4 linked regions of the Homo sapiens genome follow. The protein of the gene in region 2 interacts with the protein of the main gene of each other region in a biochemical or structural test. Each region holds a gene or a part of one and is shown on either strand. Other genes may lie near its edges. The genes, in order: CHFR, PARP1, ERG and CEBPA.

What was found.
Region 1: of the proteins of PARP1 (region 2) and CHFR, one has a biochemical effect on the other in vitro, tested with the Homo sapiens proteins (2 studies listed by BioGRID).
Region 3: the proteins of PARP1 (region 2) and ERG form a complex in vitro, tested with the Homo sapiens proteins (2 studies listed by BioGRID and IntAct).
Region 4: the proteins of PARP1 (region 2) and CEBPA form a complex in vitro, tested with the Homo sapiens proteins (2 studies listed by BioGRID, with this or other methods).

The regions. Positions count from the first base shown.
Region 1 is NC_000012.12:132,831,126-132,836,476, forward strand, and holds the end of CHFR (E3 ubiquitin-protein ligase CHFR), read right to left. Parts: 3' UTR 1,231-5,351; downstream 1-1,230. UniProt on the Homo sapiens protein: E3 ubiquitin-protein ligase that functions in the antephase checkpoint by actively delaying passage into mitosis in response to microtubule poisons.
Region 2 is NC_000001.11:226,396,916-226,405,516, reverse strand, and holds part of PARP1 (poly [ADP-ribose] polymerase 1), read left to right. Parts: intron 1-3,137; coding exon 3,138-3,303; intron 3,304-8,601. UniProt on the Homo sapiens protein: Poly-ADP-ribosyltransferase that mediates poly-ADP-ribosylation of proteins and plays a key role in DNA repair.
Region 3 is NC_000021.9:38,495,059-38,503,966, reverse strand, and holds the start of ERG (transcriptional regulator ERG), read left to right. Parts: upstream 1-5,489; 5' UTR 5,490-5,586; coding exon 5,587-5,604; intron 5,605-8,908. UniProt on the Homo sapiens protein: Transcriptional regulator. May participate in transcriptional regulation through the recruitment of SETDB1 histone methyltransferase and subsequent modification of local chromatin structure.
Region 4 is NC_000019.10:33,298,587-33,307,099, reverse strand, and holds CEBPA (CCAAT/enhancer-binding protein alpha), read left to right. Parts: upstream 1-4,565; 5' UTR 4,566-4,580; coding exon of another isoform or gene 4,581-4,685; coding exon 4,686-5,762; 3' UTR 5,763-7,166; downstream 7,167-8,513. UniProt on the Homo sapiens protein: Transcription factor that coordinates proliferation arrest and the differentiation of myeloid progenitors, adipocytes, hepatocytes, and cells of the lung and the placenta.

The sequences.
Region 1 (5,351 bases), on a different chromosome or scaffold from region 2:
TCACTAAAAGGATATATGAGTGGCAAATAAGCTTGTGACCAGGTTCAGCATCACTAGCCATTACAGAAATGCACATTAAGACTATCTTGAGGTCAGGCGCGGTGGCTCAAGCCTGTAATTCCAGCACTTTGAGAGGCCGAAGCAGGTGGATCACCTGAGGTCAGGAGTTCGAGACCAGCCTGACTAACATGGTGAAATCCTGCTTCTACTAAAAATACAAAAATTAGCTGGGCATGGTGGCAGGTACCTGTAATACCAACTACTTGGGAGGCTGAGGCAGGAGAATCGCTTGAACCTGGGAGGTGGAGGCTGCAGTGAGCTGGGATCACACCATTGCACTCCAGCCTGGGTGACACAGTCAGACTCTGTCTCAAAAAAAAAAAAAAAAAAAGACTGCCTTGGGATATTAGTATACACCTATTAGAACAGCTGAAATAATATACAGCAGTGGCAATATGAAATGCTGGGAATAATGTATTCTGGAGTAACTAATCTCTTATACATTGCTGATGGGAACAGCAATAGTGCACCCACTCTGGAATATAGTTGGGCAGTTTCTTCAAAAAGTAAACAATTTTATGACCCAGCAACTGCATTCCTAGACATTGAACTCAGAGAAATAAACTTATGTCTACACAAAAGCCTGTACATTACTGACCCCAAACTGGAAACAACCAAAATGTCCTCTGACATGGTGAAACAAACCATGGACCCCCCACGCCACTCTGACATGGTGAAACAAACCGTGGACCACCCACGCCACTCTGACGTGGCAAAACAAACTGTGGACCACCCACGCCACTCTGACGTGGTGAAACAAACCATGGACCACCCATGCCACTCTGACGTGGTGAAACAAACCGTGGACCACCCATGCCATGGACACTACTCAGCAATAAAAAGGAGCTGACCACTGATGTGTGCAATAACTTGGACGAAGCTCCAAGGCATTACATCCAGGGAGGAAAACATCTCCGAAGGTCTACACTGCATGAACTGTACGATGTGTCCACTTATGTCACAAAATGACAGCATTATAGAGTGGTGGTGGGGTTCGGATGACTAAAAAGGGGTAGATGGAGAGAGATTTTTGTGGTGATGGAACTGTTCTGTATTTTGTGACCGTGGTTACGTGAATGTCCTCATGTGATAAAATGACAGAATGAAGAAAACACTCCACCAAGCTCAGTTTCCTGATTTTCATATTGCACTATCCTAAGGTGTAGCCAATGGGAGAAATAGGGAAAACATTTAATTAGCATAAGATCTAGTATTCCATAGCACAGGAGGGTGAATATAGTTAATAATAATGTATTGTATATTTTTAAATAACAAAAAGAGTGGAACTGGAATGTTCCTAACAAAGAAATGATACAGGCTTGAGGTGATGGATACCCCAGTTACTGGGAGTTGATCATTATACATTGTATGTCTGTATTAAAATATCAAGGTACTCCATAAATATATACACCTTTTATGTACCCACAGTAATTTAAAATTTTAAAAATTTAGCAAGCAAAATGTGACAAACATTAAATTTAAATACAGTTAGAAACAATGAATCTAATCATATACTAAGTTGATGGCACAGTGTGGGAAAAATGCTAATCTAAGTAAAATTCTTAACAGCTTTAATACAATTTCTATGCAATAAAATATACCCGTGTTGTGTGTGCAGTTCAGCGACTGTAGTAAATGTGCAGAGCTGTGCACCCATCACTCCAACCCAGTTTCCGGATACTTCCGTTACCTCAGAAGGATCCTTCTTGCATTCACTCCCTATCCCCTCCACCCAGCCCGACAACCACTCAGTCACCTTCTGTCTTTATGAATGTGCCTCTTCTGGACATTTCATAGAAATGGGATCATATCGTATGTGGCCTTCTGTGACGCCTTTTCACTTGCATGGTGTGTTTAAGGTCCATCCACACTCAGCACGTTTCCTCGCTGCACGATACTCCAGTGTCTGGATACACCCATTTTGTCTGTCCATGCATCAGCTGATGGACCCACTGAGGTGCCTTACGCGAGCCCAGCACTATTCTGCGTGCGGGGGGTCCCTGCTTTGGTCCAGTTTCATGTTTGTGTGTGGATACCTTCAGAGGGCGGTAACTGATGAAAAGAAAATAAAACTGGGTGAAGCGTTCGAGCGAGAGGGGCTACCATCTGCATGGGGCCGTCATTCATATTTATCGTAGCCTACTGTCTGCAAGTACTATTCTAGGCACTGTCCCAAATCCCTGCTCTTACAGAAGGTATATTCTAGTGGGGACCAGACAACAAGCATAGAAGGTGACAGAAAGAGTCAAGAAAAGGCAGAGGCAACCCTGGGGAGGCTCGCTGCTATTTCAGGCCGATGGTTGAGGGAGGACTTCTCAGGAGAATGTGAGCCAACAAGTAAGAAACGGAGTTGCTGGGCGTGGCGGCTTACGCCTGGAATCCCAGCACTGTGGGAGGTAGAGGCGGGCAGATCGCTTGAACTCAGGAGTTCAAGACCAGCCTGGGCAACATGGTGAAACCCTGCTCTCTACTAAAAATTAGCTGGGTGTGGTGGTGTGCACCTGTAGTCCCAGCTACTCAGGAGGCTGAGGTGGGAGGATCATCTGAGCCCAGGAGGTGGAGGCTGCAGTGAGCTGACATTGCGCCACTGCCCTCCAGCCCTGACAACAGAGCAAGACACTGTCTCAAAAACAAAAAAAGAAAAGGAAAAGAAAAAAAAGGAATCATGCAGGTACTGGTGGGAACAGTGTCCCAGGAGAGGGAAAGGCAAGGAGAACGAGTACTCAAAGGCACCTTTGAGGAAGTAATATTTGAGCTGAACGTGCGTGACAAGGAGGACCAATGCACGCACAGATCTGGGAGAAGAGCAGTGAGGTGAGGGGGCAACAATCAGAGCCACAAGAAGCCCCTGAAGAGAAGCCTGGGGCACTGAGGACAGCCAGCAGGATGACTCCTGGGGTTGGGCCTGAGCTACAGGGAGGCCATGCCATCTTCTGACAGTGGAGAGGGCAGGTCTGCCGGGCGTACGTGGTGGGCCTGGGGTCCCCACTGGAAACAGCTCTCTTTGACAACATGAATCTGGGATGTTTGAACACCAAGTGGAGCCATCAGGTCAGCAGTTAGAGCTGAGTGTCTGCCACAGAGACCTAGAGCTACAGGGTGAAGGAACGTGCTGGGGAGCAGGGGAGAGGGTGAAGCGGATGTTGGGTGCTCAGCCATGCCCCACACTCCACCTCCAACCACAGCACCTCTGAGACAGACTGGACCCTTCCTGAAAACAAAAACCAAACGGGATGAGTGTGTGGGGGGTAGTGAGCTTCCTGTGGCTGCTCTAAGAAGTTACCACCAACTTTGCTGCTTAAACTAGATTTATTCTCTTGCAGTTCTGGAGCTCGGAAGTCCAAAATGAAGGGGCAGGCAGGGCTGGTTCCTTCTGGTGGCCCTGCAGGGAGATCTGTTTTCTTTTCTGCTTCGACAGCCTGCCCTCCTCTCCTGGCTGGAGGCCCTTGCTCCCTCTGCAAAGCACATCCCTCCCACCTCTTCTCTGTCACCAAGCCTCCTCTTCCTGCCTTTGACTTCTTGCTTGCTTTTTTTTTTTTTTTTTTTTTGAGATAGAGTCTCGCTCTGTCGCCCAGGCGGGAGTGCAGTGGTGCGATCTCGGTTCACTGCAAGCTCCGCCTCCCGGGTTCAAGCCATTCTCCTGCCTCAGCCTCCCGAGTAGCTGGGACTACAGGCACCCACCACCACGCCCGGCTAATTTTTTGGTATTTTTTAGTAGAGACGGGGTTTCACCATGTTAGCCAGGATGGTCTCGATCTCCTGACCTCGTGATCCGCCCGCCTCAGCCTCCCAAAGTGCTGGGAGTACAGGCGTGAGCCACCACGCCCGGCCTCTTGCTTCCCTCTTACAACGACTCCTACTGTTGCACAGAGGGCCCACAAGCTAATCCAGGATCCTCCCCTCATCTCAAGGTCCTTAATTCCACCATATCTGCAAAGCCCCTTTTACGGTGCAAGGCAACATCATCACAGGCTCAAGTGATCGGATACGGGTATCTGTGGTGGCGGGACGGGGACATGGCTCAGCCCACCACGGAGTGTCAATGGTATCCAGCATGTGGGGTTTGCCAAACAACAACAAACAAAACCACCCAATTTTTATAAAACCCCGTGGCGTGCGAGCTTTGATGGCAGAGTGTTACAATATGTTCAAGCCCTAAATCCCAGGACCTCAGAGGTGACTGTATCTGCAGACATGGAACACGTCATGAATTTGGGTGTCATGCCTGCACGTGGGCCATGCTAATCTTCTCTATATCGTTCCAGTTTTAGTAGGTGTGGTCTTTAAAGAGGTGATTAAGATAAAATGAGGCCACTGGTGTGGGCCCTAATCCAATAGGACTGGTGTCCTCGCAGGAAGAGATTAGGGCACAAACACGCATGAAGAGAAGATGACGTGAGAACTCAAGGAGATGCTGCCCACGAGCCAAGGAGACAGACCAAAGAGGAACCGGCCCCGCTGACACCCTGATCTCAGAGTTCCAGGCCCCAGAACTGTGAGAAAATACTTTCTGTTGTTTAAGCCGCCTGTTCTGCGGCGTTTTGATCCAGCGGCCCAAGTGGACCCACATTCAAGGCCAGCACTGGGCAGGGCGGGTCTCACAAATGCATGCTCCCAGCACAGCGCACGGCCCTCACAGTGCCAGGCTCCCAGCACAGCGCACGGCCCTCACAGTGATAGGCTCCCAGCACGGCGCACGGCACTCACAGTGCCAGGCTCCCAGCACGGCGCACGGCACTCACAGTGACAGGCTCCCAGCACGGCGCACGGCACTCACAGTGACAGGCTCCCAGCACGGCGCACGGCACTCAGAGTGCCAGGCTCCCAGCACGGCGCACGGCACTCACAGTGCCAGGCTCCCAGCACGGCGCACGGCACTCACAGTGCCAGGCTCCCAGCACGGCGCACGGCACTCACAGTGCCAGGCTCCCAGCACGGCGCACGGCACTCACAGTGACAGGCTCCCAGCACGGCGCACGGCACTCACAGTGACAGGCTCCCAGCACGGCGCACGGCACTCACAGTGCCAGGCTCCCAGCACGGCGCACGGCCCTCACAGTGCCAGGCTCCCAGCACGGCGCACGGCACTCACAGTGCCAGGCTCCCAGCACGGCGCACGGCCCTCACAGTGACAGGCTCCCAGCACGGCGCACGGCCCTCACAGTGACAGGCTCCCAGCACGGCGCACGGCCCTCACAGTGACAGGCTCCCAGCACGGCGCTCGGCCCTCACAGTGACAGGCTCCCAGCACGGCGCACGGCACTCACAGTGACAGGCTCCCAGCAGGGCGC
Region 2 (8,601 bases):
CTGGCCAACATGGTGAAACCTGTCTCTACAAAAAAATGCAATGATTAGCGGGTCGTGGTGGTGCGTGCCTGTTAAGTCCCAGCTACTCCGGAGGCTGAAGCTGGAAGATTGCTTGAGCCTGGGAGGTGGAGGTTGCAGTGAGCTGAGATAGTGCCACTGCACTCCAGCCTGGGCGACAGACCCAGACCCAGACCCAGACCCTGTCTGAAAAAAAAAATAGTAATAACAACATTCTGGGCTTTCCTTTGGTATACTTGATAGTGAAAGAAACTCTTTATTATTAAAAGTAACTGTGATTTTTATGTAATGGTGATTAAGGGTGGATTCAGAGTTTTAATTCAGAATTTAAAGTTGGTCTGGTAGACTGAGCTGGTGAAGGCCAAAAAGAAAGAAGCCTTTTCACTTGCTTGAATTTAAATACCTTCTTTTACATTTACATGGGAGTATTGTTCTCTGAGTATCTGATACCTGACACTTTAGCCCTCATGCCTGGGGCATCTTGGGAGGGATGAGCTGGGCCCTCCAGCATTTTGGTGGGAGGAGGATGGCGGTAGACCTTTGAGTTGCTCTGTCCTGGGAGGGTTTGAGCACCCGGAGGCATGCAGTGAGGTCAGTTCATTCTCTCTGTGGCCTAGGTGGACAGGTAGCATGGCCTGTTCTGCACAGAAGGGAACCCAGTTCACCAGCTGCTGGTTGGGTGAGGACCCTGGTATGTTAGGTGCTCAGTTTTTGCTTGGGTGCACAGCCAAAGATTCTGTGCCTTGCCTCAGCTGTGCAGCTAACAAATGGAGTCGATAGTCTTGTGACCTTGGTTTGGTGCCTTTCTGCCACATCATTCTCAGTCCTGAGTTTAGGGCAAAGCATTGCTTTGGTCAGGGGTGCTTCTGCTGAGGCTCTTGTCCTCTAAGCTTGTGCTGTGATTGCACCATTGGGCAGCACCTCCAGGGTGTCCAGCACTGTGCCGGTGGTTGGGGGAGACAGCACCCAGACCAAAGGGCAGCAGGTCTGGGGCCCCTGGCAGAGCCAGGAAGAAGTGCCATAGCCATTACCTGTGCTCTTTATACAAGGGTAACTGGAACATTGCACAGGAAGGGTAGACAAGGGGTAGACAAGCAGGCAGAGCCAGGTCGAGGCCATTGCAAATATTCCATGATAGCCAGATGCTTAGGGATCTGTATCAGCAGCCTAATTGAGATCTGGTGGAACGTTTGAGAGTTGGAACATGAGTATGCTCTCAGAAATGCCATTTGTTGTCTCTTCTACAGCAGGAATTTCCCCATCCTTCCTTTTTTGTTCCATCTGACTTGGAGCCCTAAGCAAACACTGCGTGCCCTCTGTGACATGTTGCTAGAGAATAGCAAGATAGGCCCTTATGAAATAATCACCAAATGCATAGTTCTTAGTGAGGGGAGCTGTGGAAGGAGCATTGGGAGATCTGAGGGAGTGCTCTGAACAGGGCTGGAGAGCATTCCAGACCCAGGGGAAAGCTGATGTTGAGGAGTCCTTGTGCTGCCATAGTCTTAGCTGTGCATTTTAATACATCACATCCAGAAAGAGGCCACTCACAGTGGAGAGAGATAGTGGGGTACCTTATCATTGCTTTTCCAGAGTATTTTCCCTGTCCCCGCAACTCCATCCTAAAAATTCAGCACATTTACTTTTAATGCTGTTTTAATAGTCTTATTGCATCTGTGTGACATTTAGCTTTATGTTCTATAAAAGCAGATGTTTGGGACTTCCCTTACTTTAGTCAGATCACAGTTGGTGTATTTTTAAGTAGCTCTTCCTGCCGGGCAGTGGAGTGTGGTGGGAGGAATCATAGTGTCAAATCATTCATTTGCTGCCTCTGTGACTCCCAACCCCCCAGGCAAGGATTTCCAGCCCCACTGTCTCCATCTGTGAATGAAAGGGCTGGTTCCCACCCAGAGGCAGATTGTGGGATTACACAGGATGGCTTATGAAAGGAGCAGGGACACACACTACATACTGTGTCTTCCCCTTCTTCCCAATCGCTGTCACCGTCCACTCTGTAAAGCCAGGACTGGGTGCAGTGGTTCATGCCTGTAATCCCAGCACTTCGGGAAGCCGAGGCGGGCGGGTCACGAGGTCAGAAGTTCGAGACCAGCCTGGCCAACATGGTGAAGCCCCATTGCTACTAACAATACAAAAATTAGCCAGGCATGGGTGGCACGTGCCTGTAGTCCCAGCTACTCAGGAGGCCGAGGCAGGAGAATCGCTTGAACCCAGGAGACAGAGGTTGCAGTGAGCTGAGATCGCACCACTGCACTCAGTGCAAGACTCGGTCTCAAAAACAAAGCCAGACAGTGCTCGAGGCCTGGGAGCAGAACCTGACCCTGTCACAATGAAAGGCCTAGTGGGAAGCAAACCACCTGGAGAGGGGAACTGTGTTCCCTGTGGCCAGACTTCTCAGGTCCTACGCCTGGGAAACTGCGCCCCAGAAGGCCAGTGAGCAGCTGACTCCAGCTCTAGGCATGCTGCCCCGAACCATCCGCTGTCACAGTTGCCTCAAAGACCTCCATTCATTCCACTCCCATCTGTGTGGCTGCTGCAAGCTTGACACTTTTTTCTGACACACTTTCTCTGCTTTGCTCATTATCTGGGACTTGTTCCTTGTTATTCTTAACTGCAGAGGCACTTAAAGAGCCCTTTTCTGGGGCACACAGGCCCTTTGAGTCCAGGCAAGCCTGGAGCAGTTGTCTGGCCATTCCCAGCAGATGCTGCAGGATTGTGACTCTGCACAAGTGTCTTCTGTGCATTTCACTAGGCCATGAGGCAGCTCACCACTAAATGTAGCAGTGTGTGGTCAAAAGGGACGTGGGGCAGAGCTCAGTGGTAAAAGGCCACCTTTCTCGTGGCTGTGTTTGGTGTCCTAAGAGAATGAGCTCAAGAACAGTGGGCTACAGTCTTCTGACCCTTGGGGAAGATCGTGAGAAGGATGCTGCAGCTCTTCATGTGAGAGCGGAGGCTGTCCTCCTTTCACAGATAGGAGAACAAAAGTTTCATGTGCTATCCCACTGCTGGGGCTGGGACTGGGGTCGAGGTCAAGGTCAAGGTCTAGTGGGTCTAAGTCAAAAGTTAACTGCTTACTTACTTCCCTCTGTTTCTCTTCCTTCTAGTCGCCCATGTTTGATGGAAAAGTCCCACACTGGTACCACTTCTCCTGCTTCTGGAAGGTGGGCCACTCCATCCGGCACCCTGACGTTGAGGTGGATGGGTTCTCTGAGCTTCGGTGGGATGACCAGCAGAAAGTCAAGAAGACAGCGGAAGCTGGAGGAGTGACAGGTGTGTACATACTGGGGCAGCATGGGCATTCAGCCCCCACCCTGAAGCTCCCAGGAGGGCCTCGTCTCAGAGAGCAAAGCAAACCTCCCCCAGCTTGCCCTCTCCCACATGTGCAGATCAAGCGTATGGTGCCCATGTTATTTCAGCAACACCTCCTGGACTCAGCATCATCTGTTGCATGATATTTGGTATTTTGTTTTTCCAGGTGCTTGGAATGTAGCCTTTAAAGTTGTTTTGTTTTTAATATACTTTATTTTTGTTCATGGCAAAAGTAAGCAAAGAACAAAGAGTTTCCAGTACCCCCTCCCCCTCCCACCACACAGGCTCTTCCTTGTCAACACCTCCCACCAGAGTAGTACATTTGTTATAATTGAGGAACCTACACTGACACATCATTATTGCCCAGAGTCCAGAAACTCCTGATGCTCTACATTCTATGGGTTTGGACAAATGTATGATGACATGCATCTGCCATTATAGTATCATACAGAGTAGTTTCAGACCTGCACCCTTCTGCAGCCCCCTTAAGATTAAGGAAGAATAGCTCATCTCTGAGAGGGGAATGAGGTAGGAGGTGGGGCTCAGACACCAAACCAAACCGAGGACTAACTAAAGCAGGGACAGGGACGAAGCAGCTTTCCATAAAACACCCACCAGTGTGCCATATCAGTTTACCATTGCCATGGCAATACCCGGAAGTTACCACCCCTTTCTGTGACAACAATCTGATGACCTAAAAGTTACCACCCCGTTTCTTAACATGTCTGCATAGTCTGCCCCTTAATTTGCATATAATTAAAAGTGGGTGTAAATATGACTTCAGAACTGCCTTTGAGCTGCTGCTCTCAGCACAGTGCCTGTGGGGTAGCCCTGCTCTGCAGGAGCAGTCACAGAGCCATAACACTGCTGCCTCAATAAAGCTGCTTTCTTCTACCACGAGCTCGCTCTTAAATGCTTTCCAGAGCGAAGCCAAGGACCCGCCCAGGCCAATCCCCAATTTAGGGCTGGCCTGCCCTGCATCAGTTTCACTGCTCTAAAAATCCCCTGTTTATCCCTCCTAATTCCTGACAACCACTGCTCTTTTTACTGTCTCCACAGTTTTCTCCTTTTATGTCTTCTCCCATGTCTTAGTACAGGTCACGTCAGGTGACATAGCAGAGCAGAAAGCAAAGCTATTAAAAGCTTTATTAGGAGAGGTAATCCTAGGGCAGCAAGAGAGAGGGAGGAAGGGGAGGCAGGAGGGCAAGCACAGTGCCATACGCTGTCAAGCTGGCCATGGCTTCATGAGAAACAGCCAATGGCTTGGTCATGCAGGATGCCCTCACGCAAGTCCTTTGCCACTAAGCTTCAGAAAAGCCCCTCGGAGCAGGAGGAAGGGAGCAGCATTATCCATTGGTTCTTTCTGCCTCTTGTTTCTCATTGGTTTTAGCTCGCTGGAGGTGCTGTGGTTCTCTGCACTTCCAGACTGTGTTCCTGGCCTCTGCACAGTCACGCCCTGCAGCCAGAGCTGCCTCTAGATCTGGAAGTGGCGGGAGGACTCTCAGTCCCTGGTTTTGAAAGAGTTGGCCTGTTGGTGACAGTGCTGTGTTTGTTACTGTGGTGGTCACTACAGGGTGGGTATGCCAGGGTGTGGCCCTTACCCTGAGGCAGTGACAGTGCTAGGGAACAAGGCTGTGGCACCAGCAGCCACTGTCAGGTAGCCCACCCTGGGGATACAGATGAACTACATCCAGTACGTGTAATTTTATGGTTCCTTATTTCTTTTAACATCTAAATGTTTACTCTATTTGAGAGTTATCCCGGTGTGTGCTGATGTGTGGTGTGAGGCGTGACTCCAGTTTTATTTTTTTCCAGATGATGATCTAGTTTCCCTACTTTGTTTTTTTGTTGTTGTTTTTGTTTTTGTTTTGTTTTCGAGATGGAGTCTCACTCTGTTGCCCAGGCTGGAGTGCTGTGGCATGGTCTTGGCTCACTGCCACCTCCGCCTCCCGGGTTCAGGCGATTCTCCTGCCTCAGCCTCCCGAGTAGCGTGGTGCCTGCCACCATGCCCAGCTAATTTTTTGTACTTTGTTTATTGGCTTATTCATCTCCCCCATTGAGAGGTGTCTTGTATCATGCACAAAATCTCTGTATTTTGGGGTCCTTTTAAAAATTTCTGTTCCATTGTCTGTTTAACCTTTTTTTATATGTAAACTTTTTTCGTTGTTGTTGGAGACGGATTCTCGCTCTGTCACCCAAGCTGGGGTGCAGTGGTGTGATCTCGGCTCACCGTAAGCTCCGCCTCCCAGGTTCATGACATTCTTCTGTATGTAGACTTTTTTTCTTATAGCAGTTTTAGGTTCACAGCAAAATTGAGTAAAGTACAGAGTTTCCATATACCCGCTAGCCCTACCCACCCCACACATACACAGACTTTTGTCCACAATCAACATCGCCACCAGAGTGGTCCATGGTTATAGCTGATGAGCTACATTGACACATCGTTATCGGAGTGGTCCATGGTTATAACTGATGAGCCACATTGACACATCGTTATCCCTCGAGGTCTGTAGTTTACATGAGGGCTCACTCTTTGCATTGTACATTCTGTCAGTTTTAACAAACATACATTGACATGCATGTACCTTTATGGTAGCCTCCAGAGTCCTTTCACTGCCTGGGAAATCTCTGTGCTTTGCCTAGTCATTCCTCCCTCCCCTCTAACCTCCAGTAACCACTGATCTTTTTGCTTTCTCCATAGTTTTTCCTTTTCCAGAATATAATATAGTTGGAATCATACAGAAGGTAGCCTTTTCAGATTGGCTTCTCTCACTAGCAATGTGCTCTTAAGATTCCTCCATGTCGAGCCGGGCACGGTGGCTCACATCTGTAATCCCAGCACTTTGGGAGGCCGAGCCCAGCAGATTACGAGGTCAGGAGTTCGAGACCAGCCTGGCCAATATGGTGAAACCCTGTCTCTATTAAAAATACAAAAATTAGCCGGTGTGGTGGTGTGCACCTGTAGTCCCAGCTACTCGGGAGGCCGAGACAGGAGAATTGGTTGTACTGGGAGGCGGAGGTTGCAGTGAGCCGAGATCATGCCACTGCACTCCAGCCTGGCAACAGAGCGAAACTCCATCTCAAAAAAAAAAAAAAAAAAAGATTCCTCCATGTCTTGTCGTATTGATAGCTCATTTCTTTTTATTACTGAATAATATTCCATTGTCTGGATTACCACAGTTTGTTTATTCATTGACCTGCTGAAGGACATCTTGATTGCTTCCAAGTTTTGGTGATTATGAACAAAGCTGCTAGAAACACCCACCATGTGCAGGTTTTTATGGGGACATAAGTTTTCAACTCCTTTGGGTAATCAAGGAGTACAATTGCTGGATCATGTGGTAAGAGTATATTTAGTTTTGTAAGAAACTGCCAAGCTGTCTTTCAAAAAGCTGAATCATTTTCCATTCCCACCAGCAATAGATGAGAGTTCGTATCATTATACATCTTTGCCAGCATTTGGTGTTATCATTGTTTTGGATTTTGGCCATTCCAATAGATATATAGTATTTTATTATTGTTTTAATTTGCATTTCCCTAATACTGTAATTATCTTGAACATCTTCTCATACGTTTATTTACCATCTGTATATCTTTGGTGAAATGTCTTTTGCCTGCCCCTACCCCCACTTTTTTTTTTTTTTTTTAAGACTGTCTTGCTCCGTCGCCCAGGCTAGAGTGCAGTGGTGTGATCACAGTTCGCTGCAGCCTTGACCTCTGTCTCCCACCTCAGCCTCTTGAGTAGCTGGGACTACAGGTGCGCACCACCATGCCTGGCTAATTTTTTTAAATTTTTTGTAGAGACAGGGCCCCACCTTGTTGCCCAGACTGGTCTCAAACTCCTGGTTTTGCTCTTTTTAAAATCACATTGTTTGTTTTCTTACTGTTGAGTCCTAAGAGTTCTTGGTATATTTTGGATAACAGCCCTTTGTCATATGTCTTTTGAAAATATTTTTTCTCAGTGTGTGGCTGGTCTTCCGCAGAGCAGAAGTTCTTAATTTTGTGAAGTCTAGTTAATCAGTTACTTCTTTAGTGGATTGGGCTTTTGGTGTTTGTAAAAAGTCATCACCAGACCCAAGGTCATATAGATTTTCTTCTAGAAGTTTAACAGTTTTGTGTCTTACATTTAGGTCTGTTATCCATTTTGGTTACTTTTTGTGAAGGGTGTAAGGTCTGTGTCTAGATTCCTTTATTTTTTTTCTTTTTTTTTTTTCGCATGTGGATGTCCAGTTGTTACAGCTCCGTTTGTTGAAAAGACTATCTTTTCTCCATTTTTGCCTTTACTTTTTTGTCAAAGATCAGTGGACTGTGCTTGTGTGGCTCTGTTTCTGGGCTCCCTGTTCTGTCCCACTGATCTACGTATCCTTTTGCCAGTACCACACTGTGTTGACTGCTGTGGCTTCATAGTAAGTCTTTAGGTTGGGTAGTGTCAGTCCTCCAACCTTGTTACTGTCATGGCAGAAGGCAGAGGAGAAGCCGGCAGTTGACATGGCCGGAGCAGGAGGAAGAGAGTGAAAGGGGAGGTGCTACACATTTTTCAACAACCAGATCTCAGGAGAACTCACAAGTATCATGACACAGCACCAAGGGAGAAATCTGTCCCGGTGATCCAGTGACCTCCCACCAGGCCCCACCTCCAACATTCGGGATTATAATTTGATAGGAGATTTAGTGGGGACACAGATCCAAACCATATCACTGTCTGCCCTTGCAGCAGCTGGTCCTTGCAGCTGTTGGTATGTCTGACTAGCTGCTTACTGCAAACAGGTTAGTAACGGCTCAGAATTGGGAATTTTAAAAAGTAAATAAATTTGCCAAGAAAGGGTTCAGAGGGTGAGTATGTCAGATTTAACAGAGGACAGCTCTCATTCTGTTGCCTAGGCTGGAATGTACCGGCATGATCTTAGCTCACTGCAGTTTCTAACTCCTGGGCTCAAGCAATCCTCCCACGTCAGCCTCTGGAGAAGCTAGGACTACAGTTGCCCAACTAATTTTTTAACTTTTTTTTTTTTTTTTTTTTTAAGATAGAGACAGAGTCTCACTGTGTTGCCCAAGGGATCTTGCTTGGCAAGACCCCAGGCTGGTCTCAAACTCTTGGCTTCAAACAATCTCACCTCTGCCTCCCAAAGCACAGGGTTTATAGGCATGAGCAAATACACCTGGCTGACATTTTTGTTGTTCTGTGGCTGTTTTCTCTTTTGTATTCAGGATAGGGGAAGTTGTAGGTTTAGGGGCATAGATATGTTATATCTAGTTATA
Region 3 (8,908 bases), on a different chromosome or scaffold from region 2:
GCTGTAATCATGAAGTATGCTGTGAACAGAAAAACCGTCCTTAAACAGCGCTGACTGGGTGCCCTTGAGGGCTGAGAGTGTCTTCATGCCGCGTATGTTCTCAGGCAAATCCTCCGACTGCTGCAGATGGAAAAGTTCCATGGAGTGCTGGAGTTTTCCATTGTGCGGCAGCCCCAGATGCTTGATTCTTATCTACAATCTCAGGCATGTTCCTGGCAAAAACCCCTGGGACATCGTTCTTGCGGGGCTCTCATGAATAATCCAAACACTATGCATTTTAAATTCATGTGTCATCTTAAGGACAATATACAGCACTTTTGTCCTATTGTTTTGTCCTTAAAAACCTGCGTTTCATGGGTCGCTCCCAGGCTCTGAAGTTTTATGTGTGCAGAATTTGAGGAGACTGAGATAGGCTTCCCGAATGCCGAGACATGCGGTGACTGGATAGAGCCCTGTAATCCTGGCTTCCTGAGTGCCCACTGGAGTTCCTGGCAGGAAAAGGCCATTAATATCACCTGAATGGATTAATGCCGCATAGATGGCCTCCACGAAACTCTTGAGCGTTTCTGGGTTTTCTTAATAAAATGAAAAAAAAAAAGAGCTCTATGCTTGCTGTAGACATTTAAAAAAGAACAGGCATTTGGGCATGCTAAAAGGTTTGACACCTACAAGTATTGTGGGCTGCACTTTTTACAGAACATGCCTGTATTTTTCAGATATTTACAAAAATGAACAACATTGCATGTTACTTACATATTTTTATATTAGGATATAATTTATGTTTATTACAAATTTATGTTTTGAAAATATAAGTGAACCAAAGAAGAAGAGGGGAAAAAACAAAAAGCTTCTCTGCCATTGGTATTATAAGATATAGCTGTCAATATTTTTACTTTGCCTTTTTATTTATTTTTTATTTTTTGACTATTACAAAAGGTTATTGGCCGGGCGTGGTGGCTCACGCCTGTAATCCCAGCACTTTGGGAGGCTGAGGCGAGTGGATCACAAGGTCAAGAGATCGAGACCATCCTGGCCAACATGGTGAAAACCTGTCTCTACTAAAAATACAAAAAATTAGCCAGGGTGGTGGCGGGCACCTGTAGTCCCAGCTACTCAGGAGGCTGAGGCAGGAGAATGGCATGAGCCCAGGAGGCGGAGCTTGCAGTGAGCTGAGATCACGCCACTGCACTCCAGCCTGGGCGACAGAGTGAGACTCAAAAAAAAAAAAAAAAAAGGTTATTTAACAAAAAGTCTAATATGAAAACATACATGACCTAATTTTTACATATAGTGAAACAGGCCCTTTGGAGAGGGGACATGGGTTTTTCTGTTGAACAGCCATTATTTATACTCATTCCAAAGTTTCTAATATGATGATACTATTTCCTTGTATTACCACCGTTCCAATACTGTTCTGCTGCCAACTAGTTGACATCTCCACACATTCATCTATGACAAGATTCATAAAGGGATCGAGTCCCCATAATATTCCTTGGACATGTCTGCCACCATTGCATTTCATTTTTCAACTCGGGAAGGTTAGCTTCGCTCATGGTGTCTATTCCTCAGGTTCACAGATGCTTTGGAACAGAATGCACGGCCATCCCCAACTGCCTTTTTATTTTTAACAAAATGAGTCTATGGATATAATTCTCCTATATACTGTGATTTTTTAACTAACCAGGTAAAATATCAGAGCAGTTTTCCATATTGCTAAGTGTTCATCTACGACATCATTTTCCTGCAATGTTTTTGAGGAGGAAGGGCGTTCCATTGTAGGGATGTATAGGGCAGGGATAAAGACGTGAATGAGTCATGAGTGAATCTTCTGTTGTGTCCCCACAGATGTGGAGGTTCAGACGGATCTCCTCTCTTTGCTCTGCGCATGTATTACATTGAGAACCATGTGGCTGTCATTCAGAGTGTTCTTAGCTCCTAACCTTCCTCCCCATATTCCATACAGAGAAGTTAGTAAGGGAACAAGAATGAGAACTTGTTCGATCTTTAGAAAATGGGAAGAAATGATTTTAGGATAAATAAATACTAGTGTTTCTTTTATTGTGACAGTGAATTTATGGTATATTTATGTTATATTATTTTGTTTCTTTCTTTGGAGTAAAATGTGAGGAGACTAGTGGAAGGTTTTGGCAGATTCACAGGGGATGGGTTTGTGGCAGAGAAGCATGCAAGGGAAATGTGTGCTTTATTCATAGGTTCTGCTGTCCACAGCTACTGTATGGGCTGTGCTGGTCTAGTGTGGTGATTACTGCATCTCAAGGAGAGTGAAAAAGGACCCTGCCCTGATAGGCTCATGGCAGGACGGGCCTCAGGTAGGGGCCGTGTGCCAGATTGCCCCCTAACTTGGTCCGCGTGGTGGCTTGGAGGGCATATTTCCCTAGGGAGAGGAGGTATCAGGTGGGAAAGGCAGCCTGGTTCTTAGGCTGCTGGGTGGTGTAGGGATGAGGCCATTTAATAACATAGACTTGGGGTACAAGTGAGGAAAGCTAGAGTGATATCTATATCTTCAGATAATTTCCCCATAGGATAATATTTGGGAAACGGTTTCTGCACTGCTATATTCTAGTTAATAGATGTGCCTTGGCCGGGCGTGGTGGTTCACGTCTTTAATCCCAGCACTTTGGGAGGCTGAGGCGGGTGGATCATGAAGTCAGGAGATCGAGACCATCCTGGCTAATATGGTGAAACCCCGTCTCTACTAAAAATACAAAAAAAATTAGCCAGGTGTGGTGGCGGGCGCCTGCAGTCCCAGCTACTCGGGAGGCTGAGGCAGGAGAATGGCGTGAAGCTGGGAGGCGGAGCTTGCAGTGAGCCGAGATCGCGCCACTGCACTCCAGCCTGGGCGACAGCAAGATTCCGTCCCAAAAAAAAAAAAAAAAAAAAAAAAGATGTGCCTTGTCCTATCAAGAGCCAAAGATTTTTTTAAAACACTTTACATTAAATAGTCAGAGATTACCAGGCTTGGATGCTATGATGCCATTTGAAACATCAAGAATTATTCTCTTTGAAGACAACAGGAATCAATCAAACATTTTGTCATTAGAAATGAGGAGGAGTTTCCTTTGTAAAATTTTGGAACAGAATTTACCACTCAGTATCCCCAAATTAACTTTTTATTAGATCACTTTTTATGTTTGTATGCATTTCCAAAATTAGACGCAGTAAAACTTATGGATCGAATATTGATCAAATAATAGCATCTGTTTTTCTCTTTTTTAGTATCCAATAAATAAATTTGTCTCTTATAAAACAATATTTTTATTAGTTAGAAAATGATGGATATATGCATGCATGTATGTTATACATAAATAAATATGGGAGAGAGAGACAGAGATTGAGAGAGAGAGAGCATGTGTGAGAGAAAGCAGAGAAAATGATGTACATTGGCACCAGTAGACAATCAGAGTTAACCAGGCAAAGGGTATTAGGAGTTTGGTGTATTATCTTGTGGCTTTTCTGTAAGTTGGAAATTATTTCAAAATAGAGAGGTAAGAAATCCCACTCTTCACAGTTTGATTTGCATTAGGCAAGAACCAGGGAGTTAAGGCCAAATCATCACTGAAGCATTAGGTCCCAGTAGAAATGCTGATCTTTCCTGCTGCAGGGAACAACTGAGGGCTGGATTAGCAACCACGAGGCGTGGGTGAGGCGGGACCACACAGGATTTTCTTCCGTGGCTATTTCATTAGCAAAGCGTTCATCTTATTTAAAGCTGGTGTTTGGTAAAGGCATAATCAGGTGCCATGTGTTGTGGAGGCCACAGTTAACATTTTACATTGATGCTTCTTAGGAGAGAACAAAAAGCAAGGACACTCAGGGAAGCTGAGAGAGCTTTTCTCCTCCGCACTCCAGAATTCTAGTGGAAGCTGCCCAGATAAAACAGCTCAGGACTTTGAAATTTTCGGGGAAACAGAATTTTAATCAGCCTGCCATCTTATTCATTGTTCAGAGATGAAAAGAGCGGAAATCAACACCCCCTCATAATGTAGGTGCTGAGAACTTAGGTTCTGATTTCCACAGAATGATTTTCTTACAATATACTCTCTTTCTTTTCTTTTCCTTCTTTCTTTCCCTCCCTCCCTCCCTTTCTCCTTCCTTCCTCCCTCCTTCCTCCCATCCTCCTTCCTTTCTCTCTCTCTTCTGTCCTTCCTTTCTCCTTCTCCATTTTTTCTCGCCCTCTTCCCTCCCTCCTCCTCCTCCTCTCCTTCCTCTCCCTTTCCCCCCTTATCTTTCTCCTTCTCCTCCTTCTTTTGTCCTAACATGAGGTGATAAATCAGAGGTATATAATAAAAGCCAGAATGACCTGGGCTGGTGGACAGAACTCTGACACATGCCGGCCTAAAGTCTGAGTGAAATCCATTTACTGAACGTCCAGCTCTGCAACCAGGAATTGTCAGATGACTCAGGATTTAGTCTATTGTGTTCTTGGGGTCGCCTATTGAGACCACACCTCTTTATGGGTCCTGCGTTCCTGTAGCTAGATTCAAAGCAAAATGTTTCTTCCAAGCAATTTCCTGAAAATGAGTAATTAAAGTCCTGAAACCCTCTAAGGAATGTTCAGGCCTGCATTCGCTGTACTTCCTTCGAGGAGAAAACAGACCTGTGACCCTGAACTTATAGCTTGGATTTTAGACATGTAATGGGGCCCTCACATGGCATCTCTGGGTAGCCAAAAGTTCTATGAGGATCTGTTGTCTGCAACATGGATGTCTGTCAGAGTGAGACCAGCTCACTGATATTCCGGGACATTTGTAGTCACTTCAGTTATTTGGGTTTTAATAAATACTTGAAAACAAGACTTAGGAAGGTTTATTTTTCCTCTTTATTTTTTGTGTTTACTGTAAGCCTAGAGTCCTTGCGTTTTCAACAACTTTGTTGTAGAGCAAATAAAAAGTGCAGGTATTTGGAAGGAGAAAATGAAACTGTTCTGGAACACTTATATGAAATGTTGAATAAATATAGGTTGTTAAAAATCAGCCAGGCAATGGCTGTTACTGAACATGGCCATCTATTAACATGAAATAAACTCCACCTGCAAAGTTTCCTTTTAGGAGAAAGGAGCTCAAGTCCTCTGTCCTAGTAATTCTGCGAAGAATTGGGCTGCGAAGGGCTGACACCCAGGGCAGTGGGGTGCCCTCAACGCCTTGGCTCCAAGGTGCTTGCAGCCCGTGTGAAGCCATGCGGAGTCCCATCACATCTGCATCCTGCCTTGGTCTCAGTGCAGTGTGTCACACGGCGGCACACCGGTCACACCTGCTGTGGCAGTCCCCATCCCAATTGATGCCTTTTCTTTTTTTAATTAAAAAAAAAAAATCTCCTGGCTGCATATCATCAAGAAAAACAACATTGTTTTCAGGGTCTCTTATCTCTCCACTCCCAAATATCCTGTTTCTTTGGGCTGGACAGCCAGGACCAATAGAAACCTCTTCCTGCCATTGGCTGACTTCATTTCCCAGACTTAGCACAATCTCATCCGCTCTAAACAACCTCATCAAAACTACTTTCTGGTCAGAGAGAAGCAATAATTATTATTAACATTTATTAACGATCAATAAACTTGATCGCATTATGGCCAGCACTATTAAGGTAAGGAAAGGGTTCCTTTTAATTTGACAAAATCTTGTTCTTGTTACTCTTTTCTTTGGTTTCCTTTATCAAGGCAGATAAGTTAGGGTTGGGCAACACCCCCACTGCCACAATAGAGGACAACAAGATTTCCTTTGCACTGCCTAGTAAATTTCCTTTTTCCTACTCCAACCATCCGCAAGGCTTAAAAACTTCAAACTCAGAAAAAAATTGGGGTTTCTAAATTCACTGTTGAGTGCTGTGGATTACTTTTGGAAAGGCTTTTCGGAGCGCTTCTGAATTTTCAGATTCTCTAACTATCCCTAACGGTGCCTGGATGTGTGTCTGAGAAAAGGCAGCAGACTCGGAGAGGTTGAAGGGTCGGGTCAAAGCAAAAGATGCGTTTGTGAATGTCAGACATTTGGAGGCTCTTCAGTGGCTCCTTAGCATCAGGGATGCCAGGCAGTCCCAGTGGAAGCGAAGAGATACTCGGCAAGTGGCTGCTGGTAATGGGACGCAAATGTTGACTTGATTTGTGGGACATCCACGCTGAGAACTGAGTGCTCACGTAACTCAAATGGGGGTAATTTGGTTTGTTCCACTATATGTTTATCTTCAATAAAATACCTACTGTCTGTGCACTGTGAGTAAGATTTCTTCCAGCAATGGTTAGGTTTGCGGAGATTGGAAAGCAATGGCCGGTCGGTTCTCTGTGCTGTGGGGTGTTTGGTCTGATGCATTTCCTTGCCTAAGTTTTTAGTAGATAGCATGTAGAGATTAATGTGGAGGTAAATCTGCACAGGTACAATCCTAAATATGGCCTGATTCCTGGAAATGAAGCCAATTTAATGGTGACTACAAGTCAAGGGGCATGCAGTCTTGAATGGGGGTCCGTTCAGTTGTTTTAAAGGCCACCATGCCTTCGTGACATTTGTAGAAATGTGAAAAATCAGCAACAAAAGCAGATGCTGAGTGGAGGGAAAAGAAAATTGTGTTTGTTGCATGTCTTTAGTTTTGCTGCACGGAGGTGAGAAGCATTTGGTGGTGTTTTCATAAGGCTTTTAGTTTGTTGGAAAGTGCATAAGAAAATGGAAGTTTGCCCAGAATTGGGCCAAGCCATTTTCAAAAATACTCTTTGGTTTGGTATTTTCATAATTTGAAATGTTTGTATTAGAAGATTTGACTCATATGTACCATAGAAACTGTGTTTGAGAAGTTCAGCTTTTATTTCTCAAGGTGTGTTCAATAATATATTAAAAATCTGTGTACCAAGAACTTTCACCTTATACTTTTCTTTCTTTGGCTTCAAGGATTGGAATCTGCTGAAATATGGCTCCTATAGACAGGAATTATAAAATTGAGAGTTAATGTGCCCTACTTATAGCTACATGAATAGAAATTACTTGATTTTGTGACCCAAAATGTTATTTTTTTGTTCTTATTTTCATCCTTATTCATATGCATGTTAAATCAAATATTCTGTGTAAATCTTGAATAGCTTGGGTACGATCTTATGTGGTTTTTTTTCCCAAAAAACTCAGTGCATTAAAAAGGACATTGAAATAACAGACCATCCTTTAGAAGGTAGGTACATTTTGCAAAACATCCAAATGTGTTATACTGTTTAATTTGAAGTATACATTTATGAATACATGAAGCTATTTTGAAAGTTTGAATATTTTGTGATTTTCTGAACACTTTTTTGGAAATAATAGTTTACACTTGTCTAAGGTACTATGCTTGATTTAACATTTTATTACATTGCATTATGTGTTTATTGTATGTACCCAAGTGAACCCTTAGAATGACTACAGGTGAATTTTTTTTTAATCTTCTGTTAAAATAGGCCCTCTTTATAGGTGACTTCCTTTAAGACATGTTTCTGTTAGATTTCCTGGGTAAAGTAATGAGATGATTTTACAGCCTTGTTTATAGAGTGGAAAAAGGAGGTCCTGAGTCTGTTGACTACAGTTTCAATTACGTTAGCGCAAAGCCCAAGTTAGCATAGGGAAAATGATGGCTGTCCACTGGAATTAGGAAACAGCCCCCCATAGAGGCAATTTCCAGTCTCAATGCACTCTGTTTTTTTGTTGTTTCAGTAAATAAATCAATTAGTCGATTAGGTATCAGATGCTCTGAATTTTTTAAGTTGGTTTTCTGCATTTGAGTGGAGTTTTTATTTTTTTGCATTAACATTTGTAAGACCCTATGAGACACTATGAAAAGCTAAATATTCGTATCCAGTCTTTGTGATTCTTACCATCATTTTCCCTTGGTAACTTGAAATTGGGAACAAAATGTTTCAATTGGAAGAAGTAAAGGAATTTTGGGAACTTATGTGAGAGTGTTCATTTATCTCTAAGTGTCTGTGAATTTTAAGATCAGCTTAAGAGTTCTAGTAAAGACTTGGAAGCAACAAAGCTGATGGTTTGCAGACAATTCACTGATTGGTTTTGGTGCTTCCCTTGGGCATTGGTGACATCTGACAATATTGAGAGGTGCTGAACCTCACCGGCCCCACTGTCCCCACAAACATCTCAGTGTTTGCTACAGACTGCAGGGATCCTGCTGTTGCACTGAAAACTCGATTGTGCTTCAGTTAGGAGTTTTAGCCTAATTTCCCAAAGACTTTCCTGATTCCTTTTTTTTTAATGCCATCTGCAATTTGGGAAGTCTAGTGAAGCCTACAGTCCTTTCTCAGAATAATACTTTCTGGTGCCTAAAAAGAAATACATAGAATTACAACAGAAATACAGTCCTCTCCCCGGACCTTTTAAGGAGAACATGAACCCCAGGTTGCAAGTTCTGATCCTAGAAAGATACTTAATGTGTAAAAAGGGAATGTGGGGGATTTTCCATCATCACAGAGATCTGACATTGAAGGATGTGGAGAGAGCCAGCAGCCGGCAGCAGCATCAGGGGAAAGCATCTTAAAAATCAGACAGGACATGGAAAGTTACTAACAAGGCTTGGTGGAGACCTGAGGGCACCCTAGTGCTATTTCCATGACTTGCCTAAAGAAGTTACTTTTTTTTGAATTAACAGAGGTTGGAAGGTTTGATGGTAATTGAAACACGACCTGATAGGACTCAATTTTATTAATTTAAAGACATAAAGCTTGCATTATATACGCCACGTCTGCACATTTGCACTTCTTGAACGTTTGCTATCACATGTGAGGGAAACTTAATTAAGACTAAGAGTTATATGAAGAAAGTTAACTCCTCACAGAATTTTGATGGATGTGATTAATGAGTTTAATAGCTACAGATTTATGATTTTTCATCAACCTGTTGGCTAAGTGAAATACGAATTGCGTCAGTCC
Region 4 (8,513 bases), on a different chromosome or scaffold from region 2:
CCCAGGAGGCCGATGTGGGAGGATCACTTGAGCCTGGGAGGCGGAGGTTGCATTGAGCTGAGATCCAACCACTGCTCTCCAGCCTGGGCAACAGAGTGAGACCCTGTCTCGAAAAAAAAAAGAAGAAAGAAAAAGAAACACTGGACTTTGGGTTGATTATGCGTTGAGTTCATATGCTTTACATGTCAAGATCTAAAGCCTAAAATGAATCAGTATAAAACCGTTTATGAATCCATTTGTAACAAAAAGTAACTAGTGTTTTTATTTTGTTTTGTTTGTCTAGTTGGAGGAAGGCCTTTGAGAGTATCTTATTGAATGATTGAGACATTATTAGCTATACCATATTAGATACTTGTACCCCTAGCCAGAGCTCAGCTGAGCCTGAAATCATAGTTCTGGACTTTTATCTTATCTGAATTGGTCCTGTTTGGAGCGACCAATCTTACACACACATTTCAGCTTCAGATAAAGTCAGAAAACTACATCAGAAGGGTTAGTTCCGTTTTTGCTCTTCAGAATTTGATTGATTTCCAAACTTACGTACTAATTCTCTCGTGGGCCTTGCATTAGGAAGGTTAAACCAAAGTAAAATAAAACATTTCTAGGGCTCTGTTTGTCTTCTCAAAATGGTTAGTGCTGTGATTGACTCCAGAATCAGGCTTCATCCTGGAGCATCCAAAACTCAGGACCACCGTTTCCCGGGGACTCACGCTCAACCCCCCACACTGGGCCTGTGTACACCCCCATCCACAGCCTCAGGAAGAAGGACCTTAAAGGTGGTCACAGAAGAATTTACAAGCTGCTCTTAGGACTGGCTTTGTCTCAGTTGCACATGAGCCAGAGCCACTTCTCCCAATCAAAGGTGATTTCTCCTTTGCTCCCACTTCTCCAGCCACAAGCCAACTGTCTATGAGACTGTCAGACATCAGCCCCCTCTCCCTTACCCTGTGGGACTCTCCCATGGAAAGTGCCTCCATCGACCCCAGGGTCTCACCCCAACTCCCCAGCTAATTTCCTGCTTTAGGGCTTGGGCAGGACACTTCTATCTAGGGCCCTAGACACCCCCTGTCCTCTGAGAACCCCGCCAGGCCTAGCCAGAGACCTACCACTTGCCCTCAAAACCATTTCCTCCTCATCCCGAGGTACACTTTTAGGCTTCCAAGGAAAAACCAGAACATGGTAGATGGATCTTCGCAACTGCTCCAAGGTCTTCCCCTCCAAAACCACAAAGCAGGCAGGTGAGTATCCTGGAATGAGTCCCCAGTGGCCTCCTGGGGGCTTGGAGAGGGGCCTCCAATTTCCTGGGCATTATATGTGTCAGGGGGTGGTAATCCCAGCCAGAAGCCTGGCATTCAGCCCCCAAGTCCTGACATCTTGTTCTAATCTACCCTGCCCGCTCATTACTGGGGCAATACAAGTCTCCATCCTTTCCCATCTGGTCAACACCCCCTCTCCGTCTTGGCCAGAGTAGATTCTCAGGAACCCAAATCCGACAACGAAGCTCCCCTGCTAAAATCTGGAGGTCAAAAGCCTGGGAGATAAGGGTTCCCCCTTCACCTGCAGTGGCCTTGGCCATCAGCCCAGCCCTGTCTGCGGATCCAGCCTTATCTAGGCCCCACCCTCCCTCACCCCACTCTCCAGCCGGCCAACCATCTCGTTCTTTGTTACCAGAACACATGCACTGGCAGGCTCTCCACCTTTGCACTTACCATTCCCTCCTCCTAGAAGAGCCTTCCTCCCTTATCCTTCCAGCAAATTCCTGCTCAACTTTCAAGGCCCAGCTCAAAGGTCTGCTCCTGCATGAAGCCCTGTCTCACCGCCGGTTCAGTCCAAGCAGGCTGCCATCATAGACCTACCATAAACATTTATTTCTCATGGTTCTGGAGGCTGGATGCCCAAGGCCAAAGCCAAGCTGCCAGCACCCTCAGGTTCTGGTGAGGGGCCTCTTCCCTGCTTGCAGACGGCCACCTCCTTTCTGTGCATGCCCATGACATTGTTCTTCTGATAAGGCCACCAATCCTATCAAATTAGGACCCTACCCATATGACATCATCTCACTTTAATGACTTCCTAAAAGCCTTATCTCCAAATACAGTCACATGGGGGTTAGGCCTTCAACATAGGAATTTGGGGCAGGGACACAGTTCAGTCCATAACACCTCCGCAGACAAATCTGATCTCTGCCTCCTCCACAGCGCCACCTTGTTCAGGGCAGGACTTCTCTTCATCACAGCACATCCACCCTTGATTCCCATTTGTGCCTCGTGTGCATTTGATGAATGAATGAAGTCCCATCCCCTACTCCTTCTGTCTCCTCCTTCCTCCCAGCAGCCTCTGTGTGACAACTTATCCGTCTCTCCCACTGTCCCAGTTCCCAGAGGCAGGAGCCACCCTCTCATGCATCCCTGGGCTCTCGGCACCCTGCACAGGGCAGGCCCGGGTGGGTGAATTCTGGTTCAATTGTAGGAGGACCTGTGGCCCCTGGGGTTGGCGAACCCCGGGCCGGGAGTCCCACTCCTTGCCATTGTCGCCCCCACACATTCATCAGCCCCCTATTGGACAAAGTCTTATTCCCATTACTGAGGTTTCTTCCAGTCCTACGGGGCAGAGTTCCCGATCTCTGGGCAGGCAACAGCAGCTGTGCAAAAAAGGCCAGACATCGCCTTCCTCCCACAACTCCACAGGCCGGGAACCGTGCATGTACAGTGGCGTTTCTTTGTTCCTAGGTAGGAAAAGCCATTAGTTTTAGCACCGCAGAAAAAAACGCAAATCGCTCTTGGTGCTTTTTGATTTCCGTCCAGGTCTCCCTCCACAGGTGAATGCTATATGAATGGGTCCTGCATTTGGCTCAGCAAGCAGCTCTCCGGCTCACATCGGGATATTTATTTAACGTATCTGGTTTTTACTCCCTCCCGTCCAAAAGCGTCAAGCTAAAAATATCTTGTTTATGAGCTCTGGACCGAAAACGAAGCAGTTGGGCTATTAATCACTGGGACTATGTTGAATAGGAACTTGATTAAAGCGCAGTGTGCGTTGCCCAGATGAAACTGCTTCTTTACTGCGATCGTCGTGGAAGCTCGGGGCTCTCCAGCGGTGTTTTTAGCTGTGCCCCCTCCGGGGCTCCTGGGCGGGTCGTGGCGCCTTGCCAGGCCTAAGGCCACTGTCGGTGAAGGGGGTCTTCCCTCACCTGTAGGCAAGCGCGCCTCTAGCCGGGACGCAGGCGGCGTCAGGCCTCAGCGCCAGTGGCGAGGGGCGGCGCGGGCAAGGACAGGAGACACTTGAGGGCTCCCAAGACTCCATCTGGGCCCAGCTGACGGTCCGTAGCCGCCACCCCGGCCCCGGTAAAGAATGCGAGGGACGCACGTGGCTGGGGGTCTCGGTGGCAAGCTCCTTCCCCCGCCGCGGTGAGAGCATTAGCTGCCGCACTCAAGGGGCCCCAGGGCCTGGCCGCCTCGGTCCCTAGGATCCCGGGGACTACAGCGCCCGGCGAACCACTGGGCAGAGTTCTCCCTGTGCGTGCTCGGACCTGGCAGCCCGGCGGCCTGGACACCCTCGCTCCCGCCGTTGGCGCCCACCTGAATGGGGAGGCGGGGGAGGAAGCGGTGGCTTCGGGCCTCGAGGGCTGCGGCCCCCGCCTCGGAATCCCGGCCCCAGAGTTAAGTTTGTCTCCTCCCTCGGTGCGCCCCTCCCCGTGCTCGCCCCGGCGTCCAGCTCCGCTAGTCTGGGGGGCCCCGCGGTCCCGCAGGAAAAAAAATCGGCGACTCCACGCCGGGTAACAGCGCCGGCCCCGCGCGCCTAGCAAGCCGCGCGCTCCGACCTGGAGAAGTAATTATAAAGAAAGTTTTCCAGCCCGGGCGGATCGACCGGCCAGGTCCTCCAGGCTCCCGGGCCGAGGCCGCCTCCGCTCCCCGCGGGGTCCTAGCGCCCTGCGCGGCGCCGCCCATGGGACCCCGGCGTCCTCCGAGAGGTACCTCTGCGCGGAATCACAGGGGTAGCCTGGAGATCAGAGCTAGGAGACGCAGAGCCACCGCGCTCAGGACCTCTCCGCGCGTCCCAAACGGCCCCCCACCGGCCCCAGCCCCGCTGCTCTGCGCTGCAGCCTCCCCGGGACGCGGGTCCGGGACAGGCCTGGTTCTGGCTTTGAAAGAGAATCCGCGCCCCAGCAGCTCAAGACCAAGACTCGCCCTCCGCCCCCCACCCCTACCCCGTGCAGCCTCGGGATACTCCTGGGCTCCCGGCCGTGGCTGGATACGGGCGCCTAGGGCAGGCAGGAGGAGGGGGCCCCCGCTACCGACCACGTGGGCGCGGGGGCGACGGCCGGGCCGGGGGCGGAGCTTGGAGCGAGCGCCGCGGCTCTGCTGGGCGCGCTGGAGGCGGTGGGCGTTGCGCCGCGGCCTGCCTGGGGAGCGCGGCGCTGTGCCGCGCTGGTTCGCCGCCCCATGCCGGCCGCGCGCTAGGACCCAGCAGGCGCCGCGCCGCCGCAGCCCGGGGACAGAGGCCGCCTCGGACTCTAGGGGGCGACGCGGCCTGCCGGGTATAAAAGCTGGGCCGGCGCGGGCCGGGCCATTCGCGACCCGGAGGTGCGCGGGCGCGGGCGAGCAGGGTCTCCGGGTGGGCGGCGGCGACGCCCCGCGCAGGCTGGAGGCCGCCGAGGCTCGCCATGCCGGGAGAACTCTAACTCCCCCATGGAGTCGGCCGACTTCTACGAGGCGGAGCCGCGGCCCCCGATGAGCAGCCACCTGCAGAGCCCCCCGCACGCGCCCAGCAGCGCCGCCTTCGGCTTTCCCCGGGGCGCGGGCCCCGCGCAGCCTCCCGCCCCACCTGCCGCCCCGGAGCCGCTGGGCGGCATCTGCGAGCACGAGACGTCCATCGACATCAGCGCCTACATCGACCCGGCCGCCTTCAACGACGAGTTCCTGGCCGACCTGTTCCAGCACAGCCGGCAGCAGGAGAAGGCCAAGGCGGCCGTGGGCCCCACGGGCGGCGGCGGCGGCGGCGACTTTGACTACCCGGGCGCGCCCGCGGGCCCCGGCGGCGCCGTCATGCCCGGGGGAGCGCACGGGCCCCCGCCCGGCTACGGCTGCGCGGCCGCCGGCTACCTGGACGGCAGGCTGGAGCCCCTGTACGAGCGCGTCGGGGCGCCGGCGCTGCGGCCGCTGGTGATCAAGCAGGAGCCCCGCGAGGAGGATGAAGCCAAGCAGCTGGCGCTGGCCGGCCTCTTCCCTTACCAGCCGCCGCCGCCGCCGCCGCCCTCGCACCCGCACCCGCACCCGCCGCCCGCGCACCTGGCCGCCCCGCACCTGCAGTTCCAGATCGCGCACTGCGGCCAGACCACCATGCACCTGCAGCCCGGTCACCCCACGCCGCCGCCCACGCCCGTGCCCAGCCCGCACCCCGCGCCCGCGCTCGGTGCCGCCGGCCTGCCGGGCCCTGGCAGCGCGCTCAAGGGGCTGGGCGCCGCGCACCCCGACCTCCGCGCGAGTGGCGGCAGCGGCGCGGGCAAGGCCAAGAAGTCGGTGGACAAGAACAGCAACGAGTACCGGGTGCGGCGCGAGCGCAACAACATCGCGGTGCGCAAGAGCCGCGACAAGGCCAAGCAGCGCAACGTGGAGACGCAGCAGAAGGTGCTGGAGCTGACCAGTGACAATGACCGCCTGCGCAAGCGGGTGGAACAGCTGAGCCGCGAACTGGACACGCTGCGGGGCATCTTCCGCCAGCTGCCAGAGAGCTCCTTGGTCAAGGCCATGGGCAACTGCGCGTGAGGCGCGCGGCTGTGGGACCGCCCTGGGCCAGCCTCCGGCGGGGACCCAGGGAGTGGTTTGGGGTCGCCGGATCTCGAGGCTTGCCCGAGCCGTGCGAGCCAGGACTAGGAGATTCCGGTGCCTCCTGAAAGCCTGGCCTGCTCCGCGTGTCCCCTCCCTTCCTCTGCGCCGGACTTGGTGCGTCTAAGATGAGGGGGCCAGGCGGTGGCTTCTCCCTGCGAGGAGGGGAGAATTCTTGGGGCTGAGCTGGGAGCCCGGCAACTCTAGTATTTAGGATAACCTTGTGCCTTGGAAATGCAAACTCACCGCTCCAATGCCTACTGAGTAGGGGGAGCAAATCGTGCCTTGTCATTTTATTTGGAGGTTTCCTGCCTCCTTCCCGAGGCTACAGCAGACCCCCATGAGAGAAGGAGGGGAGCAGGCCCGTGGCAGGAGGAGGGCTCAGGGAGCTGAGATCCCGACAAGCCCGCCAGCCCCAGCCGCTCCTCCACGCCTGTCCTTAGAAAGGGGTGGAAACATAGGGACTTGGGGCTTGGAACCTAAGGTTGTTCCCCTAGTTCTACATGAAGGTGGAGGGTCTCTAGTTCCACGCCTCTCCCACCTCCCTCCGCACACACCCCACCCCAGCCTGCTATAGGCTGGGCTTCCCCTTGGGGCGGAACTCACTGCGATGGGGGTCACCAGGTGACCAGTGGGAGCCCCCACCCCGAGTCACACCAGAAAGCTAGGTCGTGGGTCAGCTCTGAGGATGTATACCCCTGGTGGGAGAGGGAGACCTAGAGATCTGGCTGTGGGGCGGGCATGGGGGGTGAAGGGCCACTGGGACCCTCAGCCTTGTTTGTACTGTATGCCTTCAGCATTGCCTAGGAACACGAAGCACGATCAGTCCATCCCAGAGGGACCGGAGTTATGACAAGCTTTCCAAATATTTTGCTTTATCAGCCGATATCAACACTTGTATCTGGCCTCTGTGCCCCAGCAGTGCCTTGTGCAATGTGAATGTGCGCGTCTCTGCTAAACCACCATTTTATTTGGTTTTTGTTTTGTTTTGGTTTTGCTCGGATACTTGCCAAAATGAGACTCTCCGTCGGCAGCTGGGGGAAGGGTCTGAGACTCCCTTTCCTTTTGGTTTTGGGATTACTTTTGATCCTGGGGGACCAATGAGGTGAGGGGGGTTCTCCTTTGCCCTCAGCTTTCCCCAGCCCCTCCGGCCTGGGCTGCCCACAAGGCTTGTCCCCCAGAGGCCCTGGCTCCTGGTCGGGAAGGGAGGTGGCCTCCCGCCAACGCATCACTGGGGCTGGGAGCAGGGAAGGACGGCTTGGTTCTCTTCTTTTGGGGAGAACGTAGAGTCTCACTCTAGATGTTTTATGTATTATATCTATAATATAAACATATCAAAGTCAATGTCGGTGTCTTTTTAAAACCAGAAAGAAGCTACTTCCAAGGTTGTCTGTGGGCCAGGTCACATTTGTAAATAATACAGCATTTTCCCTGGCGGCAATCCTGACTTTCATGAGCTCTCCATCCATCCTGAGCCCCTCTTACCCTAAGGGGGTGACTTACTTCCCCCAGGCAAGACAAATAAATAGCAGAGGACAAGGCTCCAAATGGAGTATGTCCAGAGCCTGAAGGCAGTCTCTTGGGGTCAGGGGAGGGGGCTGAAGGGGTTACTGGGCTGAGGCCTTGGCGAGGCTTCTTATCTGCCCCGGGGAGGAGGAGAGGGAGTCCTCTGCCTGAGGGGTAGGCCTGGCTAAGCAGCCCTAGGCTCAAGGAGCCCTTTGTGCAGACTTCCTTGCAAATCACCTACAGCTGCAGCCCTGGCCACTCACACACACCGCAGCTCCAGATTCCAGCAGGACCCTCGGCCAGCAGGAAGAGGCCTCCAGTGGTAGGACCCTCCAACCCTCTCCTCTTTCCCTAGACCATGTGGCTACACCCTACCCCTGCGAGGCCCGAAGGCAGCCTGAAGAGAGAGACCCCTCCATCCAGCCCTCCACACCTGCCCAGCCCCAGCCCTCACAAGAAAGGGGGCTGAGGCAGGCCTGCAACAGGGGTCTGGTCCTGCCCCACACACTGGCTGTTCAAGAACCCACCCAGCATCCACACTCCCCACTGCATTCATCCCAGACCCAGCAGGGGACTGAGTGCTGGTGTGCCCCCAACTCCAATGAGCACCCTGTAAGGTCAGGCACTCCGGCACCCCCTTAGCAGCAGTGACAGCCAAGCAAGGGAGGGCAGCCCTTATCCCTGAACTAACAAGGCCCGGGAGAAAGAGGCCCAGGAGGCTGATGGTGCTTTTCAGATTTTACCCTCACGGAGGGTAAAAGATAAATTGCACTTTTCTTTTTTTTTTAACTCTGTACCGAGAGAATGTTCACTGAGTGGCTTACTGTGTGTACCAATGCGGGCTGGGGCATTTTCGAGAAATTACACATTCCTTTTACACTCTGGAAGCTTAGCTTTACCTGCCTGCGTGGTTAGCTGGCACCCCTTCCGGCCCCCCACTCTGTCCTGTGTCTGGCCGCCTCCTCACCCACGGCCGCCCTTGGCAGAGGAGAGGCCACGAGCCCAGTGAGGAGGCGGCGCCTGCCCCGCCACCCTGGGAACAGAGGAGGCAGAGCCCCGCCGCGTGCCCCGAGGCCTGGGGCAGGTCGCAGCTTGCTAAGCCCCAGCAAACCCTCTGAGTTCAGTGCTAATTCCAGTTTTTCTTGTTTGAGGGGGCTGATCCCTGGCTTCCCCCTTTCCCCCCAG